2 separate regions of the Homo sapiens genome follow, and region 2 is linked to region 1. A link means that fine-mapping ties the variant in region 1 to the expression of a gene that starts in the linked region. Tissue or cell type: whole blood. Region 1 holds a variant in brackets; the other region holds the start of a gene. All regions are shown on one strand. Distances are between the middles of the regions.

The links. PIP is the estimated chance that this variant, and not a neighbour inherited with it, causes the effect.
Region 2: ZNF484 starts here. The variant in region 1 is fine-mapped to the expression of ZNF484 in whole blood (INTERVAL, PIP 0.98).

What each region holds. Positions count from the first base shown.
Region 1 is chr9:92,817,292-92,819,976 of GRCh38, forward strand. It overlaps the pseudogene ANKRD19P. Among named protein-coding and RNA genes, the nearest start is that of BICD2, 54 kb to the left of the region's middle. The variant T/C (reference allele first, on the strand shown) is at 1,184.
Region 2 is chr9:92,876,553-92,879,237 of GRCh38, forward strand. ZNF484 (zinc finger protein 484) reads right to left here and starts at 1,486. Exons shown (of 5, transcript NM_031486.4): 1 at 1,338-1,486. RefSeq lists enhancers at 1,241-1,776, 1,290-1,729.

The DNA.
Region 1 (2,685 bases):
TGGATTTAAAAAGTAAAGTTGCATTAGCATCCCAGGATTATCATTATAATTGAGAATAAAATTTCTTACTGAGCTTTGCTTTTTAATATTTATTTTCAAAAATTTTTAACTGGTCTCTCTTACACAGAACATACTGAACTTTCTAATAGTTAAGATAAAAATCTATCCTCTTGTATTAGGAAAAATCCCATGGACTATTTAATAATAAGGAAAATAAGTGCATTTGAAGCCAATCTCTCTTAATTCACAGCTCATTTCCTTAGTGGCCCCTTTGGACCAGGAGTGCCTGACATTGGCATCCTGACACCATTGATAGAAGTGAATCAAGCAAGTTTGTGCCACCCAGAGGAAACCTCCACTTGTACTGGGAAGCTCTGGCAACAGGATCCCTGAAACTCTAGTTCCTAAAATGTTAATGTTTGCCACAAAAAGTATTGTCAAATTGAGATTAGGCAAAGTTCAAGGGATTTCTAGATTGTTGGCCATGTAATACAGTTTTGTAATACTTCTCAAATGCAGATGATCGTGGAATCTTTTTGTTGGGGTACAGTTCTTCTGGTAAAACAAATATTCTTTGAAATATAGTTTAAGAAACACTGCTCTAAAGATAATAATTTAGATCATTAATTTATTTTAAAAACGTAAAGCATTCGCTACTATGTCTTAAGTTTTAGGGTTATAGAGAAAAAAGATACAGCCCTTGCCCTCAAGAAGTTCTTGGTTTCAGTGGGAAACAATGAAATAATTACAATGTACTGTGCTAAATGCTGAGATAGAAGCAAGGATTTTGGGGATTGGTAAACATAGTGAGTTTTGGAGATGACCGAAGTTAACGTGGGGAGGCAGAGGAGGGGTGTTTCAAGGCAGTGTGTGGGAAAGCACAGAGGAGTGAAAAGGACGGGACTGCTTTGCATTTACTTTCTCTCTATATTGCATGTTTAAGTTCATAGCATCTTATAGAAGATTTTTAGTTCAGTTAAGAAATACGTAATTTTGTGAATTATAAATTGTTTTTGCTTTTTACAGGAGGGAAACACTCCACTTTTGTTTGCTATAAATTCTAGGAGACAGCAAATTGTGGAATTTCTGTTGAAGAACCAGGCAAATTTACATGCCATTGACAATTTCAGAAGGTGCAATAGTTTTTGGTTTTTTTGTTTGTTTGTTTTTTGTTTTTTTTTTT[T/C]CCTAAAAACCTGAATGTTCTAGAGTGGTAACAGTCACTCAAGTCAGAAATGTTAATAAGATTAACTTATAACTATTGGCATATAGTAAAAAATAACATGAATAATCAGTTAGGTAGAAAAGCAGTTATTTGGACTGAGAAACATAAAAAACAGTATATAGTAGGATTCATCTTCTCTTATAGACCGTTACTTGTAATCTGATATTTTTGGTCCTGTAATCTTATATTAGCTAAAGGGGTTTTGTATTTTATTAATTTTATAAAGCGTAGACTTTAACTTTCAGTTTACAACTACTACTATTACCATTATTATTATTATTATTACTATTATTATTATTATTATTATTGCTGTTGTTTTAAGCCTGCAGATAGCTCTTACTTATTTGATCCCTAGCTGATTTTGAATTACACTGTATCAGACTAGGAAAGCAATGGGGAAATCTTCATCTAAATCTTTGCCTACTTTAGATAAGTGACCTCAGCACAGTTTCTTGGCCATCAAAGGACTATAAATTAGCAACTTGTATTATGTCATATCCCAATGGAACATGAAGCTTGCTTGTTGTCCCTGCCTTTTAGTCTTGGTGGTAATTTACCCAGATGAACACTTTAGCACCCAAGATGCTTATACACATAAGCTAGTACATGTATATGGTTATTATGTCTATCCTGACAGGCAAGATACGAAATTGGTGAAGTGTATCCAATTTGCTAATGAAATATCTTTATTAAAGTTCTTGAGTGCTGTTATTTCTTTATTATTTTAGAACAGCCCTCATGCTTGCAGTACAGCATAACTCATCAAGTATCGTCAGCCTCCTCCTTCAACAAAATATAAATATCTTTTCTCAAGACCTGTTTGGCCAGACTGCCGAGGATTATGCTGTTTGTTATAATTTCAGAAGGTATGTGCTTATATTAAAAGACCAGTTAATACTAAATTAAGGTTTAAAATAATTACAAATATTGCATCTTATACATTAGGTGACAGTTCATAGTTTGTTTGAGGTAGTTTGGAATGGCAACAAGTTAGTCCACTTTTTAGCCAGAAATCAAACAGAAAGCTAGATTAGTTAGAAGTAGCAATGAATGCAAGATTCTTTCAGGACTTTTAAAGACCTTTATCCCTAGGGATCTCAGTGTTGTTCATTTTATTCCAAGTATAACCCTCATATGTGAGATATAAATAACGTCACATCTTTTACTTTTTTTCTTCTTTCTTTTGTTTTGAAACAAGGTCTCACTATGTTGCCCATGTCCCTGAGCTCAAGTGATTCTCCTGCCTCGGCCTCACAAACTGCTAGCCACCATGCCTGGCCTGACTTTTCTAATTAGTTATTGGGTCTTGAAATATCCAGTTTAGCAGAAAATCTTGTATTGTCCCCTGGGGCTACCTCCTATGCCTTCCTCCTTTGAATTTTTCAAAAAGCTAAGGGGTTCTCTAAGTCCAAGGAAGACAATCTTACTTTACAAGTCAGAAGAAGGGGGGAAAAGGCCATTCT
Region 2 (2,685 bases), 59 kb after region 1:
TGGCAATGTGAGTATCAACGTGGAATTCGATGTTAAAAAGTGTTTTTCTTGGAATTCGATGTTAAAAAGTGTTTTTCTTTTTTCTTTTTGGTTGAAAAAAGGGATCCTATAATAATACCACTTAATACATGAAAAAGGATAAAAAATGCACTAACCATTAAGTGTATGTATGCCCATCCCTCAGATGCACAAATAAAATTAGCAAAAAAGCACATATAACTGCAAAATGAACTATTAAAAGTGATTTTTATTGTATCTCCTCCAGAATATGAAACAAGTAGATCAAAATTAGGAAAGATAAAGATTTGAAAAATACCAACAAGCAAGACTTAATTAAAGAGAATTTTGGTCCATACAACAAAATATAATTTTTCTTTTATATCTGTTGAACAAAGTTCATTGAGTAACTTGGCTTCAAGGAAAATCTTGATAAATTGTTAAAAGTTGAGACTTGATAGTCTGCATTTTCTGACAATACAATAAAATAAAAAACAGCTAAAACATACTTTAATAATTTGGGAATGAATAAACTCTCCTAAATAACTAAGATTCAAAGGGAAACATCAAAATGAACTTATGCATTTCATAAAGATGTACTTAAAGAAACTTTACAACCCTAAATGTATCCCGCATAAAACTTAAGAAAATAAGGGAAAGAACAACAAATTACATCAAAAAGTGGGAAAAAGAGAAAGTACCTAAAAAGAAAAAGAGAAAAAAATTAATATTAAAAGAGTAGGGAGTATTTTATTGGACATTTCAAAATGTCCAATGAAACAGATAAACCTTTCAGACGCTTGATTCTTTTTAAATAGAGAAAGAATGAATGATATATAAATATAATAACCGTAATGATAAAGGAGCTACTAGTCTGGATATGAAAGAGAACAAAATGGAAATGGAAACATGCAATTCTATGTAATATATTCTTTAAATCTTTAGCAAAATATATCATTATAATGAAACAGAAACGAAAATATAAACAGATCGGTACGTATAAAAGAGAGGAAACTAATTAAGATGTGCATCATTCACACTCCTCAGATCCCTCCTTAGTTCCCATAGTCATCCTCCCCCACAACCCCACAGTCCGCCCTCACTCCGCCCTCAGATCCACCACCAGACAGAGACCCCCAGTCCGTCCTCACTCCGCCTGCAGATCCACCACCAGAGACCCCTCAGTGCCCCCTCACTCCTCCCTCAGATCCACCATCAGAGATCGCTCCGACTTCCACTATTCCATCCACTGACCGACCCCATCACTGACCGGAAGGCTCAGGACAGACATCAGAGATTCTTCTTGCTCAGTCCACAGATGCTGCCATCCCTCTACTCACCTGCCCCTCACCCACGTCCTCTCAGGACAGTGGTCATTTGCCTCGGGAGGTGACTATAGTCGCAAGAACCAGAACAGGACCCACTTCCTTTTTCTCAATGCCTCCCAGGCCTAGAGGTACTTCTTACAGCGCTGCCTGGGTTTGCGCATGCTCAGCAGTCTTCATGGCCTGAAGGTTGCCAGTAATCAACATGGCGCTTTGCCAAACACGCTCCCGTTTCAGCGGCTTAGGCTGGGCGCCAGTATGGCGGCGCCCATGTAGACACTCTGGCCTGTGGGCGGCCATGTTGAGGTCATGTAGAGACTGAGAGGCTGAGGGTTGTCCAAAGGAAAGGAAGCAAGCAGAGGTGTGTCCCATCATACTAAGCCAGGACACAATCAAAGCCTATCACCTCAGGTTACAGTCTTTCTCCAATGCTTCTGTGGACACAACAACACTGTTAATCAACAGGAACTAATCAGCATTTATGTAACACCGCAAACGCAGCCGAATACACATTTTATTCGTGTCGATGGGACATTTAGCAAGATATGAAGTAACCTGGGTCATAAAACAAATCTCAGCAAATTTGAAACAACTGAAATCATACAGTTTGTTCTCTGAACACAATAGAATTAAACTAGAAATCAATAACAGGAAGATAAAAGGAAAATCTCCAAACACGTGAAAACACATGCTAAATAATCCATTGTTCAGAGAGAAAGTCTCAAATTTTTAAAATACATTGAAATGAATGAAAGTGAAAGTGAATGAATTTTTAAAATACATTGAAATGAATGACAGTGAAACACAACATATCAAAATTTGTGGGATGTGGCTAAATCAGTGGTGAGAGAAAAATGTATATACCACTAAGGGCTTACATTAGAAAAGAAAAAAATTTCAAAGCAATAACCAAGCTCCCTCACATACTAGAAAAAGAAGAGCAAAATAAACCGAAGGCAAGTGAAAGAAAGGAAATAATAAGGATAAGAAGATGACTCAATAAAATGTAAAAAGAAAAATAGAGAAAAACCGATTAAACAAAAGCTGGTTCTGTAAATGTTAATAAAATTGACAAATCTGTAGAGGAGACACAAAATATCAATATCCAGAATGAAACAGGAGATACCACTGTAGACCATGACGAAATCAAAAGAATAAAGAGAATACTACAAACAACTCTACAAACATAAATTTCACAACATAGATGAAATGCACTAATTCTTGAAAAAGCACAAATTCTCTCTTACATGAAATAGTTATGTTGAATAGCCCTAGAACTGAAGTCATAATTTGAAATATCTGAAAAAGAAATCTTAAGGCCTGGATAGCTAGATCAGAGAATTCTAACAAACATTTAAAGGTT